2 separate regions of the Homo sapiens genome follow, and region 2 is linked to region 1. A link means that fine-mapping ties the variant in region 1 to the expression of a gene that starts in the linked region. Tissue or cell type: uterus. Region 1 holds a variant in brackets; the other region holds the start of a gene. All regions are shown on one strand. Distances are between the middles of the regions.

Region 1 (8,102 bases):
GGAAAAATGGAGAAGGCATTAAAGTCCCAATTGAGGCTAAAAAAATCCAAAAAAAAAAAAAAAAAAGAAATAGGGTATCCTTTTTAGGAGTGGCCACTGTAGAGCCTCCAAAACCCATTCCATTAACTGGGAAAACAGAAAAGCCTGTATGGGTAAATCAGTGGCCACTACCAAAGCAAAAACTGGAGGCCTTACACTTAGTGGCAAAGGAACAATTAGAAAAGGGAAACATTGAGCCTTCATTTTCACCTTGGCATTCTCCTGCGTTTGTAATTCAGAAAAAATCAGGCAGATGGTGCATCCTAACTGATTTGAGAGCCATCAATGCAGTAATTCAACCCATGGGGACTCTCCAACTTGGGCTGCTTTCTCCGGCCATGATCCCCAAAGATTGGCCTTTAATTATAATTGAGCTAAAGGATTGCGTTTTTACCATTCCTCTGGCAAAATAGGATTTAAAAAAATTTGCTTTTACTATACCAGCCATAAATAATAAAAAACCAGCCACCAGATTTCAGCGGAAAGTGTTGCCTCAGGGAATGCTTAATAGTCCAACTATTTGTCAGACTTTTGTAGCTCAAGTTCTTCAACCAGTTAGAGACAAGTTTTCAGACTGTTATATTATTCATTATGTTGATGATATTTTGAGTGCTGCAGAAACGAGAGACAAATTAATTGACTGTTACACATTTCTGCAGACAGAGGTTGCAAACGCAGGCCTGACAATAGCATCTGATAACATTCAGACCTCCACTCCTTTTCATTATTTGGGAAAGACCAACAGAGAAAAAAGAGAAACTGGGAAAGAAAGGAAGAGAGAAAGTGAGAAGAGAAATCAGAAAGAGAAAGGAGAGAAAACGGCAGATGTGGAGAGCCAGGGAGAAAAAGAAAAAGAAAAAGAGACTGAGTGTGAAGGAGAGAGGACACGGGATGACAGACAGAGAGAGAGAGAGAGAGAGAGAAAGAGAGGGAGAAAATGAGTAAGAGAGAGACTGGAAAAGACAGAGATCAGAGAAAGACACAGAAGGTGAGACTGGGGAAAAAAATAATGTAAAAGAGAAAGACAGAGATCAGAGAGAGACACAGAAAGTGAGACTGGGAAAAGAAATAGTGTAAAAGGAAGAAAAAGAGAAAAAGAGAGAGAGACCATAAGAGAAGGGAGACAATGAAACAAAAAGTGCGAGTGAGCAGGTGAGGAGAAAGATTGAAAACTATGAGAAACAACAACTAAGAGACAAAGGAGAAGGGAGACTGCCTGGGTGCCGGAGCACCCACACTGTCCTCTTGCCCCCATCACTTGGGTTAAAACCATTGGAAATTCCACTATTGCAAATTTTGTATTAATCCTTGTATGTCTGCCCTCTCTATTGTTAGTCTACAGGTGTATCCAGCAGTTCCAGAAAGACAGTGACCAGCAAAAACAGGCCATGGTGACAATGACAGTTTTGTCAAAAAGAAAAGGGGGATATGTAGGGAAAAGAAAGAGAGATCAGACTGTTACCGTGTCTATGTAGAAAGGGAAGACATAAGAGACTACATTTTGAAAAAGACCTGTACTTTAAATAATTGCTTTTCTGAGATGTTGTTAATTTTTAGCTTTGCCCCAGCCACTTTGACCCAACCACTTTGACCCAACCTGGAGCTCACAAGAACATGTGTTGTATGAAATCAAGGTTTAAGGGATCTAGGACTGTGTAGGACGTGCCTTGTTAACAAAATGTTTACAAGCAGTATACTTGGTAAAAGTCATCGCCATTCTCTAGTCTCAATAAACCAGGGGCACAGTGCACTGCAGAAAGCCGCAGGGACCTCTGCCCTTGAAAGCAGGGTATTGTCCAAGGTTTCTCCCCATGTGATAGTCTGAAATATGGCCTCCTGGGATGAGAAAGACCTGACTGTCCCCCAGCCCGACACCCATAAAGGGTCTGTGCTGCGGTGGGTTAGTAAAAAAGGAAGGCCTCTTGCAGTTGAGATAGAGGAAGGCCACTGTCTCCTGCCTGCTCCTGGGAACTAAAAGTCTCGGTATAAATCCCGATTGTACATTTGTTCAGTTCTGAGATGAGAGAAAAACCGCCCTATGGTGGGAGGCGAGACATGTTTGCAGCAATGCTGCCTCGTTATTCTTTACTCCACCGAGATGTTTGGGTGGAGAGAAACATAAATCTGGCTTACGTGCATGTCCAGTCATAGTACCTTCCCTTGAACTGAATTATTAGATTCTATTGCTCACGTTTGTTGCTGACCTTCTCCTTATTATCACCCTGCCCTCCTACTACATTCCTTTTTACTGAAATAATGACGATAATAATCAATAAAAACTGAGGGAACTCAGAGACCGGTGCCGGTGCAAGTCCTTGGTATGCTGAGCGCCGGTCCCCTGGGCTCACTGTTGTTTCTCTATACTTTGTCTCTGTGTCTTATTTCTCTTTCTCAGTCTCTCGTCCCACCTGACTAGAAATACCCACAGGTGTGGAGGGGCAAGCCACCCCTTCAAACAGTAGCAACCTGCTTGGGTCCCCTTCCACACTGTGGAAGCTTTGTTCTTTCGCTCTTTGCAATAAATCTTGCTGCCCCTCACTCTTTGGGTCCACACGGCCTTTATGAGCTGTAACACTCATCGTGAAGGTCTGCAGCTTCACTCCTGAGGCCAGTGAGGCCACGAACCCAGTGGGAGGAATGAACAACTCCGGATGGGAGGAACGAACAACTCCAGACATGCCGCCTTAAGAGCTGTAACACTCACTGTGAAGGTCCGCAGCTTCACTCCTGAAGCCAGCGAGACCACGAACCCACCAGAAGGAAAAAACTCTGAACGTGTCTGAACATCAGAAGGAACAAACTCCGGACACGCTGCCTTTAAGGACTGTAACACTCACTGCGAGGGTCCGTGGCTTCATTCTTGAAGTCAGTGAGACCAAGAACCCACCAATTCCAGACACACCTTCATTTTGAGCCTATGTGTGTCTTTGCACGTGAGATTGGGTCTCCTGAATACAGCACACCATATGGGTCTTGATTCTTTATCCAATTTGCCAGTCAGTGTCTTTTAATTGGGGCATTTATCCCATTTACATTGAAGGTTAGTATTGTTATATGTGAATTTGATCCTGTCATGACGTTAGCTGGTTATTTTGCCCATTAATTGATGCAGTTTCTTCATAGCATCAATGGTCTTTACAATTTCGTATGTTTTTGCAGTGGCTGGTACTGGTTGTTCCTTTCCATGTTTAGTGCTTCCTTCAGGAGCTCTTATTGTAAGGCAGGCCTGGTGGTGACAAACTCTCTCAGCATCTGCTTGTCTGTAAAGGATTTTATTTCTCCTTCACTTACGAAGCTTAGTTTGGCTGGATATGAAATTCTAGTTCCAAAAATCTTTTCTTTCAGAATGTTGAATATTGGTCCCGACTCTCTTCTGGTTTGTATGGTTTCTGCTGAGAGATCTGCTGTTAGTCTGATGGGCTTCCCTTTGTTGGTAACCCAACCTTTCTCTCTGGCTGCCCTTAACCTTGCTGAATCTGACAATTATGTGTCTTGGGGTTGCTCTTCTCAAGGAGTGTCTTTGTGATGTTCTCTGTATTTCCTGAATTTGAATGTTTCTTTTTTCTTTTCTTGTCTCTAATCTTGTGTTCTCACTTTATTTCATTAATTTTATATTCAATCACTGATATCCTTTCTTCCACTTGATTGAATCAGCTATTGAAGCTTGTGTATCCTTCATGAAGTTCTTGTACTGTGGTTATCAGCTCCATCAGGTCATTTAAGCTCTTCTCTAGATTCTTCATTCTAGTTAGCCATTCGTTTAACATTTTGTCAAGGTTTTTAGCTTCCTTGCAATGGGTTAGAACATGCTCCTTTAGCTGGGTGTAGTTTGTTATTACTGACCTTCTGAAGCTTACGTCTGTCAAGTCATCAAACTTATTCTCCATCCAGTTTTGTTCCCTTGCTGGTGAGGACTTGTATTCCTTTGGAAGAGAAGAGACGTTCTGATTTCTGGAAGTTTCAGCCTTTTTGCTCTGGTTTCTCTCCATCTTTGTGGTTTTATCTACCTTTGGTCTTTGATGTTGGTGACCTATGGATGGGGTTTTAGTGTGGATGTCCTTTCCTGTTCTGATGTTGATGCTGTCCTTTGCTGATGTTGATGCTATTCCTTTCTGTTTGTTAGTTTTCCTTCTAACAGGCCCCTCAGCTGCAGGTCTTTGGGGGTTTGCTGGAAGTCCATTCCAGACCTTATTTTCTTGGGTATCAGTAGAGGAGGCTGCAGAACAGCAAATATTGCTGCCTGATCCTTCTTCTGGAAGCTTTGTTCCACAGGGGCACCCACCTGTATGAGGTGTCTCTCTGCCCCTACTGGGCGGTGTTTTTCAGTCAAGCTACATGGGGGTCAGGGACCCACTTG[G/C]GGAGGCAGTCTGTCCGTTATCGGAGCACGAACTCCGTGCTGGGAGAACCACTGCTGTCTTTAGAGATGTCAGGCAAGGACACTGAAGTCTGCAGAAGCTGTCTGCTGCCTTTTGCTCAGATATGCCCTGGCCCCTGAGGTGGAATCTGGAGAGGCAGTAGGCCTTGCTGAGCTGCGGTGGGTTCCGCCCAGTTAGAGCTTCCCTGCAGCTTTGTTTACACTGTGATCATAGAACGCCTACTGAAGCCTTAGCAATGGAGGACTTCCCTCCCCCACGGCCCCGTTAATTGATGCAGTTTCCGCACCCCCCCCACGGCCCTCTCCACCCTACCTGTCAAGCTCCAGCTCCAGCGGAGGATGCTCCAGGGACAGCGATGTCAGGACTGAGATGCAGGGGCTGCCTTAGAGTCTGGATGCATGGGGTAGCGGGGTGTGAGGCACCGGGCCGGGGTGCAGGGCCGGAAGGAACGTGCTGGATCTGGGATGCTACCAGACGGGGCGTCCCAAAGACCGAGGCAGTCCCGTACCTTACAACTCTCAGATGAGCTCCACGGTGGGCTTGGCCACCGTGACCCCTACTGCCGAGGCTGCTGCAGAGGAGCCGCCGCCACCCACACCGCTGTGGAGCAGCCGCACATGCTAGACTCCGCTTCAGTAAAGCCCGGGCGGTGAGTGCCGCCGCAGAGGCGAGCCCGCTCCAGACAGTGGCGGTTGCGTGAGCGCCCCTCCCCCCACCGGGCTTTGGAGCGCGGGCTCCCACGCCGGCCCGGAGAGCTGCCCGACTGAGCATGCGCGTCGCGCTGCCGAGCCTCCTGAGAGCCCGCGGGCTGGCGCCGACCTTTCTTGCCGGCTCCGGCGTGAGAGGCCCGTCGGTGTGAGAGGCTCAGCGTGTGTCGCCCAGTGTCAGTGCCTTTGGGGCGGGGGACAGCGTCCCCACTTTCCTTCTACTGAATCCTCGGGCCCGTGGGCAGAACCCATTTCTTTTGTTTGTGGGCCTGGGTACCTTGCAGGGCCTTTCTCTATTCCCCACCGGCTCAGGACCCATCCAGCTTGTACTTGCTGACTCGGGAGGGAACTCGGGACGTAGGGCCATGCGGGGAGAGGACCTGGCCTGATCTGGGAGGCAAGGGGCGGGGAGGTGTTAGAGAGTTCATCCTTCCCCACTCTCTCCGGGCTCGCGCTGCCTCGGGGATTCCCGTGGCGTCCTGGGAGTTCCCGTGCCACCTTCCTTCCAGCTGGCAGCTCTGCAGACACCTCCACCCGTGAACATCACGCTCAAGTTCTGGAGACAGGGAGGAGGGCTGGGGGATCCAGAGATCCAGCCTGAATAGACTTCTGCTCTCTGCTCAGCTAAGCACCCAACACTGAGAAATGAACAGGTCAATTGGATTCAAAGCCGCGCAATCATCTGCATTTTATTTGCACCTCATTTGCAAGTTGTTAATTTGCAACTCTGCTCCTTCCACTCCAGGTTCCTTCTCTCCCATCACCCCTCAGATTCCCCAGTGGCCCAGGAAAAAATATCTTGGTCTTTGCCAAGGTAGACTCAGCCTTGTCAGCAGGCCTGTCCTGTGTTCTCAGGGGAGGCCTTTACCCAAGGCCACAACAACAGCAGGAATCCCGAGTAAGACGCCACCTTGACGGCAGGGAAGGCTGGATCTTTTCACAGGGCAGAACTGATTTGATGAGGTGAACAGTAAGGTGAGCAGAGGTGGGAAAGGCCAGTGGGTGAATGCAGGAACAGCACCAGGAGCTAGAGCCCAACTCTGGCCTGTGGGCTGTCTCCCGGTCCTCAGAGGCGGGACGGGGTTCCTCCACCCACCACCACTGTTTCCCCAGTGATGTAGCTGGCATCTTCAGAGCACAGGAAAGACACGATGCCAGCACAATCCTCTGGCTCGCCTAACCTGGGGAATAAGGGAAGCAAGGAAGGAGGTAAAAATCAAACGGGTCTGCCTCCCTCACCTGGGACACGGGGAGTTAAATTTGCTTAATCAAGAATTATCAGATGACTTTTCAGGATCAGTGTACAAGCTTTCTGCCTATCAAATAGGGTTACCACGAGGATATGCTGTTATAATTTAGTATAAGCATACTGTACTCTGCAAAACTATTACCCATAATATTCAAATACTATAGAAACACACCGGTTTTTAGAGAGCTCAGGACACCAAAATCCAAAGTTATATAGATAAAATGGTGAGCAATTAATTATTTCATACTTCAAAAAAATGGTTTCACATGTGCACACACTAAAGTATCAGGGAGTCTGTGTGACAGTAAATGGTGTGTTTAAAATGATTCCATTTGTACAGGTTCAGCTTAGAACTTTTTCAGGAATCTATACTTGTGCCTTAAAGTCATGTTCATTTAGTGAGAATGTGCTAATTCTTATTTTATCAGTGACTGCATAGTTAGGAGACACTTTAATCTCCCTGCCATAGAATGCTCTAGAGGTGGGCAGAGTGAGTAACTCAAACCTAGAAGGGCTGAATTAATGCTTCTCCATTCTACTTGTATCTTGCAATCATTTGAGAGGCTTAAACCAAAAAAGAAAAGAAAAGAAAAGACAAAGAAAAACAAAAGCCCAGATGGTCAAGTCCTACCTTGGACCAATTAAAAAGAATCTCTGGGAGTGGGTGGGGCCTGAGCACCTGCAGTTTAAAAAGCTCCCCAGGTGATTCTAATGTGAATCCAGTATTGAGCTACATGGGCTAGATCATTCATTGGTGCTCTAGGTTGACAATCCCCTCACTTATTAATGAGTTATGAACCAGGCCTGCAGCTCATGTCTCACATCAGAATGGCTTTGGGAAGATTTGGGATGTCTGGACGAGTACAGAGTTAGGCATTACTGGCATTTGTCCTTGAAGCCAGAAGGTAGAGAGAGGCAGGGAACTTAGAGGAAAGGGAGCCCGACAAAGGTGCTTGAACAGTTCACCCAGCTCACTGGGGAAGAAAGTAACTCCTTAGGCAAGGGGAGTTTGGGGCTTAGTAAAACTCTTCATTCTTTTCATTTGGATTGTAGATCATCAACCTGAGTTTTGTAAACATGTGTCATTATTCAAGGGGACTAACAAAGCATGGTTTTGGTTATGGTCCCTGGTCTCCATGGATGCTCAGAGGTGGAGGCAATCCCCCAGGTGGAGAGAGGACTCAGGGCTTCTCCGAGACCTCTGCACTGCTGAAACCCCGATGTCTCTGTGTTTACCTTTGGAAAGGGAAGCTGACTTCTTGCTCAGGTCACTGTAGTGATAGTGTTTATGAATTCGTGGTCTGTGAGGCAGAAGAGAGCCTGCCTGTGTTATCTGTGGGACTGAGACAGCGGGCTGTGGGCTGCTAGGGACCAGACCTTCCCATCTTCATGTCTCTTAGTGCCCTTGCCCTCATGACAGTTTACCTTCTTATCCGCAGGGTTTCTTTCATGCTTTCCTCTTTTTCCTTGTCCATCCAGAGCTGTAGGAAGAAGGGAAATCTCTTTATGTTTTTTTTTCTTTTCCTTTCTTTTTTTTTTTTTTTTTTTAGAGACGGAGTCTTGCTCTTTTGCCCAGGCCGGACTGTAGTGGCGCTATCTTGGCTCACTGCAAACTCCGCCTCCCGGGTTATGCCATTCTCCTGCCTCAGCCTCCCGAGTAGCTGGGATTACAGGCGCCCGCCACTGCGCCCGGCTAATTTTTTGTATTTTTAGTAGAGACGGGGTTTCACC
Region 2 (8,102 bases), 290 kb before region 1:
ATTTGGCCTCAGCCGGGCACGGTGAGCTGAGATTGCGCCACTGCACTCCAGCCTGGGCAACAAGAGCAAAACTCCGTCTCAAAAAAAAAAAAAAAAATTAGCTGGGTATGGTGGCGGGCACCTATAGGCCTCATTTTCCCCCATTCCTGTGAACTCCTTGGGCATTAGACTTCCTGAGTCCAGAGGTACAAAAACTTAAGATTAGATAAGTCCTAAAAGGTAGAAGTTGAACTGAGGGCATAAACAGATTGTGGGTAATATCCACTCACCTCCAACAAGAGCTGTAGGACCTTGGCTTGGTAGGCCCCAACTCTGCGACAGGCCCCCACCAGGGCAATGACTACCCCTGGGTGGCCCTGGGCCAATACAGCTTCCAAGACAGGGCTCAGCTCCTCAAACACAGGGGACAGCTGATGGGAAACATGGAATGTAACTCTGGCATTCTGGTAATGGCGGACCACATTATTCAGAGAAATCTTCCCAACGAAAACAACTAAAAATGCTAGATAAAACATAAAAAGCATTGCCAGTATCAGGACTTTTGTTTGGCTAGATAAGGCCCAGGATAAGGGGGCAGTCTTAGAGGTGCCACCTCACAGGAAGGAACTTTAAGTGGCTCTTCCCTATGTGTAAGGGAGCACTAGGAGCAAGGGGAGACTAAAATTAAACTGCACTTCCACTCTAACACCCAATGCATGAGACCACAGGGAAGCCCACCTTAGTCCTAAGCAGCAAAGGAAAAGAGAAGCTATGGCAACAGCTCTAGCACTCATGTGGGCTTATAGCCAAGTACCAGAGTCTGGGTGGGCCATGGAACCTCAAGCTGTAAACCTGAATAAAGCCAGTTTCTTGCTGGTCCTCATACCTGAGAGAAGTCAAAACAAATCCTCACTAGAAGGTGGGCACCTTTATCCTAAGCTCTGGAAAACCTCAAAGAATAGCTTTTCAAGGGCAATGGCCAGCACAATGTCAAAGGTATATAGAGGCAGACAGACCATAAAATAAGGTCCAGTGATCAAGAATTAGCAGAAACAGATCCAGCTCAGGTTTCCAACTCACCAGCTCAGGGGTAGTGACTGCATCCAGTAAGCGCTGCAAAGGGAAGTTGGCAATGGGATGTGCAGCCAGGGTCTGCAGCTGCCCCTGCAAGTGCTCCTCAAAGAGGCTCTGGAGTCTTGGGGGCTCCAACACCAGCAGGACCTGCTCCAGGAGTCTGGAACTCGTCTGATCTCGGAGAAATAGCAGTAGGGGACTAGGGACAAGAAGGGCATCAGGCAGTCTTAACTCCATTTCATGCAAAATACAGTTGCACTACATCACCTCATTCATTTCACACAGCCCCGCCAACTTGGGTCGATCCTGAGGCCCTGACCATACCTGCCATCTACTGAGGAACCGCGAGTACTCAGGTAGCCAATCACAGCATTGCAGAGATGAGCGCAAAACTGGGGAAGTTTGCGGTGTAAAACCTGTAAAGCCACTTGAAGACAGAAGCTGGAGATCTTATCAGTGATAAACACTGTGGAGAGAGGGCAGAAATAAAGCGGCTTTCCCAAAATCCAGACAACCTGCGTAACCTCAAACTTTAGGCAACAAGATACAGGGCACTATGGACACAAAGGGACTATACAAAGTGCTCTGAACGTCAAACCAGACCAGGTTTGAAAAGAAGAGGAATAACCTGAGGTAAGGGCCTTGCTTGGTGGTAAGATGACCTCCAGACAAGTAGATACGAGACCATCCTCCTACTTCCCTCCTTACCTGCAATGTCCTTCAGAAAGGAGGAGCTCAGGTCCTGAAGGCGATTCAAAAAGGTTTCAGGGACTTCAAAATCAGCTGGCTTACATTCCTGAGCTGGGGTCTTCTGTGCTTCTGAAGGAAGATTAAGAACATGTGCAGTGGGGAGATCACAAACTGCCATCCAGGAGAGAAAAATTTCACAGATGAACAAGGATTCCGCTTGGAGATGCAGAACAGATGTAGTACAACTAAATGTCTCTTCTGGATGACTGAACTGAGACTACATTTCTGTCTTAATTTTTCTAAGAAACTTCAACCAGCTTCCCCATGGTCCACAGAAGACAGTTCAACCTCCTCAGCCAGGTATTCAAGCCATTCCAAAATAAAGCCTCATTTAAACTCGCTAACTTTATTTCCTAGTTTTTCAAAATGTGGATCACAGCTCAAGACTGTACCATGAAATCAAGTTAGTGGTCTCAACTAGCATTTTTTTTAAATGAAATAGAGCAGAATAGTTTTGAAAAGGAAAAAAAAATAACAGAGTGGGCTGCATGTAGTAAGGGTATAGTTTCCTGAACTTTTGCTTGAGTCCAGTGTGTATGTTACTTTTGCTTAAGTCCATTTGTATATTAAGTCATGCTTAAAAAAAATTCTCCTCCTGCGTCCATTCTAATAGCCTTCCCCAAACACAACTGTACATCCCTACCTCTGGGCCTCCGCACACACTAATCTTTGGCTTGCTAAGCCCTGTTCAGATTAGGACAGGTCAAGCTAATTCTTCCCGGTCAAGCTCCCCCATGAAGACTTACTCTTCTGTTTACTGTCTCATTCTGAACTTTCTAAATTCTTCTTCCCCCTAGGTCCACTTTCCTCTTGTAATACTTACCAGATGATTGGGAACCACGGGGCCTGGCTCTCTCAGACTCCAGAATAGTCCCTCCTAACACCTGAAGCAGAGTTCTGACCACGAAGCTGCCATGTGTGTCTCCACAGTAGACAAGAAAATCATCACACACCTCAGCGGCTAGTCCCAGGACCAGCTCCTCCAGGGTCTCCGTGGGACCATCCTTTCCATCCTCCTCCTCCTCCTCCTCCTCCTCTGCAGCACTCCCCAGCAATCGAGGGAGCTGTAGCAAAGCACTTTGTAATACATGGACCCCGCATCGGTGACAGGCCACAGTGCGCAAGTTAGAGCGCAGAGCAGCCCACACGCGACAAAGCGGTTTCAAGGGACTGAATCCCAACAGTTCCTGCAGCATCTCACTGCCAGTCCTGTTCGTGGACAAAGCTAGGGCCTGAGTCTCTACTTCCTTCATTATATTGTGCACCATCAGATCTGAAAAGGGAAGAAAGACACACTTTGAAGAGACTTAGTAGAGAATACAGTTATGTACCCTCGCTTAACCAAGGGTCGTGGGTCGGAGGCCGAGGAAGAGGACATGGGAAATGAAACTAAGTCCCCACGCCCTGCCGACCCTAGAAAGTTTCCTTGCCTGCCCTGGATTTGATGCTCTTGGTCTAAACCCCGAAGTTGCTGCCTACCTCGTTCTTCCCCAGTCTCGGGAGCCTCTTTCAATGCTGACAGCGCCCGGCGGAAATATCCCAGAGCTTCCGGGCTCAGGTGCGGGTGCGAATCTGGAGCCGGCTCCGAGCGCCCATCCGGAGGCGGCCAGGGTTGCCGCTTACGGCCTGGTAAGGGGCGCCCCGACCCCTTGGCCCCGCGCCCCCGTTTGCCACCAGCTGGGAACCGGCGCCCCACCTTGTGTGGAGAGCGCGGACCCTGCCCCATGTGTGCTTCGCGACCTGTCCGGCTGCAAAAGCTTCCTTAACTGCGGACGGACCTTCGACGTCGCCAAGCGTGCGCCTTATCCAGACAAAGTTTAGAAACGCGGGCGCGCTCCTGACGCAGCTACTACGTCATAGTTCCGCGCCGCCCCAGCCGGGCGGGGTGGGTGTGTCACCCAGATCGCTCCGCCCCCATCCGCAGGTTCTAACTTTGGCCTGGGACTCTGCCCCTCTACCTCAGCACAGAATCGCCCCGGGTCCTACTACAGAATCAATCCTTGAACACTGCCTCCACGTCGCCGGCTCAATCTGGGCGAGAACCCAGACTTCCACCGCAGCCCCGCAATCTGCAGACCTCAGCGGCAGCGCAGGTGGCAGGTAAGCGGCGCACGCTCGTCCCACTTAGGGCTTAGGATCTCCAGGCTTCGCGCTCATCCCCGGCCCGGAAGCTGCGCCTCTGGCTCAGCCGGACTGGGTCAGGCCAGGGACCGGAGCTTCAGATAGCCCAGGACTCTGCGTGGACGCGCCCCGAGGGGCTGCCGCGCCAGATTCCCATATCCAGGCAGCCACACTCAGAGGGTTGTAGTAGTTGTCCACCTCTGGACAGTCCCACTCAGCCCCTTCTTCACTCTCTGGGCCTCCCAAAAGACAGTCAGCCTTGTCCTCAGGCCCGCACCCAGTTGTCAGCCTCTGACTCCTCTCCCCTCAAAGGATTCTTACCTTGGCTCCTCCTCTTAGCCCTAGTGAGGTTCTCCCCTACCCCCCAACCTCGCCCCAACACACACACAGTCTCCAGGCTTCCCTCAGAGTAAGTCTTTGCTTCCACAGACCTGCCTCCTTTGCCTGTGAGTCATGGCAGCTCCCATGAATGGCCAAGTGTGTGTGGTGACTGGTGCCTCCAGGGGTATTGGCCGTGGCATTGCCTTGCAGCTCTGCAAAGCAGGCGCCACAGTTTACATCACTGGCCGCCATCTGGACACCCTTCGCGTTGTTGCTCAGGAGGTGAGTGCTTCCTCTGGGACCACAGTTGCAGAAACCACCCGAGAGAGCCCTTCCACTTAACAGCTCCTTTCCTAATCCCTTACCTGAAACTATAATACTACTCAACAAGATGTGAATATTTATTCAAAGTGGAAATTAAAAACCCCGTAAATAACTTCAGGTAAGGTAGAATTTTGCCGCCAAGTGAGTTTTATGAAAAAACTTTGTGTTTGAGCCAGGCATGGTGGCACGTTCCTGCAGTCCCAGCAGCTACTCCGGAGGCTGAGGCAGGAGGATCGCTTGAGCCTAGGAGTTGAGCCATGATCACACCACTGCACTCCAGTCTAGACGACACAGCGAGACACTGTATTAAAAAAAAGAAAAGAAAGAAAAGTAAAAAACTTTTTGTTTGAGAGCAGAGATTTTGGAATTGCAACTAAAGGGTTGTGGACCTGTGCTTTCCTCTATTTCAGGCAAGACTTTATTGAACTGCACATTTTTTACTTATTTACTAGACTTCAGTTAAATAAATATTTGAGTATCCATGATTTGCTAGGCATTGGTAAACCACTGAAGTTACCAAGACTAATAAAATCTAATTTCTGCTCTTCAAAGATTCAGTCCATGGTGGAGTACAGTGGCTCATGCCTGTAGTCCCAGCACTTTGGGTGGCCAAGGCAGCAAGATCACTTGAGGCCAGCAGTTGGAGACCAGTCTGGGCAACATAGCTAGACCCAGTCTCTACAAAAAATATTTTTTAAATAATTAGCTAGGCACAGTGGCCTGCACCTGTAGTACCATCTACTTGGGAGGCTGAGGCAGGAGGATCGTTTGAGCCCAGGAGTTCGAGGTTGCAGTGAGCTATGATTGCACCACTGCACTCCAGCCTGGTGACAGTGAGACCCTGTCTCTAAAAAAAAAAATTTTAATTAAAAATGAAGATAGATTCCAACAGGAAGTCAGGTACAGAAAGCAGTCACTTCAATGTAATGTGAATATGGTAAATTATAAGAGGGAGATATGCACAGAATACTCTAGGGGTGTTGGGGAGCATCCAGATGACATAGGAGAGTGGCTAGGGAAAGTGGTTTGGGAAAGCGTCCTGGAGGAGGTAGGTGGTTCTTGAACTGAGTTTTGAAAGGTAAGAATTAGGTAAAGGAAGTTAGGAAAAGCATTCCAGCAGAGGGAGCTCCATAAGCATAGGGACGCTGTGTGAAAGAGTAGATGTGTGAGATAATGCAAGGGAAGAGTAGTGAGTGAGAGGCTGGAGAGGAAAGAGTGGGTCTTGGAAGACCCTAATAGAGAACTCAGGCTTCATCCTCTAAGAGATGGAGATCCAGTTAGGAGATTTTGAACAGGGTTTGTGTTTTAGATAGGTCGTACTGGCTGGATTATGAAGAATTAATTTAAGGCAGACAGACTGGAGGTCAGGTGAGTCGTTGGGAGGCATTGCAGTAGTTCAGGCAAGGAGGGTAATAGGCGGGGACCCAGAGCATAAATTTGGAGAATAGGAGGATTGTTCTTAGATAAAGGACTCTTCTTCCTCTGAAGTTGGAGGTTTGTGGGCATTTGTAGAGAGTGAGACAGAACAGGAAGTAGAAATCATTCATGGCTGATAGCTTTGGTTTTTTCAATTACCAACCAGGAGCATTGGTGGAGTGAGGGTAAGACAACTGGGACTGAGTAGAGGTTTTAGGTGAGTAGTGTAGGGTGGGAGCTAAGGGCATGAGAGATGGAAATGACCACAACAAGGAAAAGGATGCTTACTCATTTCTCAAGAGCAGACTCCATGCCTCACTTGTTCTTACCCTCTACTTGCAAAGTACAATGCTGTGCACATGGTGGGCCTCAGTAAATGTTTGTAGATTATTAAAACTTACATTGCAATTCACCTTGCTCTGTGGTGGGGAGGCCTATCATTCCTGAAACTACTCAAACAGACACCAGAGGGCAGCGTTGCCTGCCATGTTGCCTCTGCAGCAGGCTCTCCTAGGATTGATTGTCTTCTCAGTTCTCAAGCCCACTTTGGTTGGGGAGTTTTGTCATGACTCACACCCATGTGTGAATGTGAGCTCATATCCCCTGTCCTACTCCAGGCACAATCCCTCGGGGGCCAATGTGTGCCTGTGGTGTGCGATTCAAGCCAGGAGAGTGAAGTGCGAAGCCTGTTTGAGCAAGTGGATCGGGAACAGCAAGGGCGTCTAGATGTGCTGGTCAACAATGCTTATGCAGGGGTCCAGGTACCCTTTGAACTTTGTTCCCAACTCCACATTTCTGACCTCCCCCTCAGACCCCTGCATCTTCATCCCCACTCATTGTCCCTTCCATTACCCAGCCCCTCACACCTCCCTACCTTCAGATCATTCATCACCCTCCCTGTGCCTTCCAGACGATCCTGAACACCAGGAATAAGGCATTCTGGGAAACCCCTGCCTCCATGTGGGATGATATCAACAACGTCGGACTCAGGTGGGTGCTCCACTGCCAGGACCCATGTTCCCTCACTCACTTAGCCAACTCGACGGCCAGGCCTTTCCTTACATGCCCTCTCCTTTTCCCTCCGGCCTCCCCCATCTCTTTCTTCTCCCTTCCATTCCATTTGTCCCACTTACCTCTGGAGAAGTTCCATCCAGGTGAGTCTGTACCTGAGAATGTCAACTCTGTCAGTAATTTTCATTGGAACAAGCCCTTGGCCTCTCTCCTGTCTCACTCTCTGCCCATCCAAATGCAAGACCCAGAAGGGAGGAAGCCTCCTCCTCTCAGTAATGCGCACAGCCTGTAGTCTATACTTTCAAAATGGTTAGAGGGAGAAATTGTTTTATTTTAGACTGGGAGAAGCTTAAGAAGAAGGAGCGAACACCAATGCTGTTTAGTCTCCACATCCTCACTCCACACCCACAGGCAAGGGCACTGCCGGGTCAGAGTTGGGAGAGCAGGTACATCACTGGGTCACACAGGGTCATTTAGCCCAGGAGTGAGATGAAACACAGCATTTAGAATTCGCCTAGCATAATGCACACCAGTTATGCCTCTGTTACTGTTGGAATGATGTTACACTCTCATATAATCAAGTCATGCCTGATGGATGTGATCAGTCACCTGTGGGAGTAACCACGAGATTATCGGCAAATCTGTGACTAAAGCATGTAAGAACACCCACCGCTCCAATTTTGGTACTCTGGTAACAATCCCAAGGAAGCAGGATTAGAATGCAATTGTGATTTCCAAAGTGGAAGGAAGATCATTAGGACAGAGGAGGATGGTGAGGCCAAAGGCAAGAAAGGGACACGTTAAGAGCTGGAAATTGGCCAGTGTTCATGACCATAGCCTCCAAAGAGAGGTGCCTTCCACACCCTCATCTCTTGCTGGCCAGGGTTTTGACCCTGAAGCAGAGATTCAAGGCAGAGGCCCAGACCCTCGACCTTGGGCCCTGATGAATTATCCAAGGTAAAGGCCCCTTGATGAGCCCCTGACAGCCCCCCAGCACCTCCTGCCCACCCATTCCCCATGCGCATTTACTGCCTTTCCTCTGTATTACCTTGGGCTGCACTTTCCTTTAAAACTATAACTCTACTTGTTTTCATTTGGAAGGTCCT

Evidence for each region. PIP is the estimated chance that this variant, and not a neighbour inherited with it, causes the effect.
Region 2: it holds the start of DHRS1, and the variant in region 1 is fine-mapped to the expression of DHRS1 in uterus (GTEx, PIP 0.98).

Annotation. Positions count from the first base shown.
Region 1 is chr14:24,004,087-24,012,188 of GRCh38, reverse strand. It overlaps DHRS4L2 (dehydrogenase/reductase 4 like 2), which reads right to left. Exons shown (of 8, transcript NM_198083.4): 7 at 7,797-7,852; 8 at 5,786-6,303. The coding sequence ends at 7,819. It also overlaps the pseudogene DHRS4L1. Among named protein-coding and RNA genes, the nearest start is that of DHRS4L2, 19 kb to the right of the region's middle. The variant G/C (reference allele first, on the strand shown) is at 4,397.
Region 2 is chr14:24,295,382-24,303,483 of GRCh38, reverse strand. It overlaps DHRS1 (dehydrogenase/reductase 1), which reads left to right and starts at 3,704. Exons shown (of 9, transcript NM_001136050.3): 1 at 3,704-3,903; 2 at 4,354-4,527; 3 at 6,603-6,746; 4 at 6,896-6,975. The coding sequence starts at 4,378. NOP9 (NOP9 nucleolar protein) reads right to left here and starts at 3,634. Exons shown (of 10, transcript NM_174913.3): 1 at 3,283-3,634; 2 at 2,627-3,076; 3 at 1,762-1,872; 4 at 1,378-1,519; 5 at 1,060-1,252; 6 at 270-410. The coding sequence starts at 3,529. RefSeq lists an enhancer at 4,360-5,150.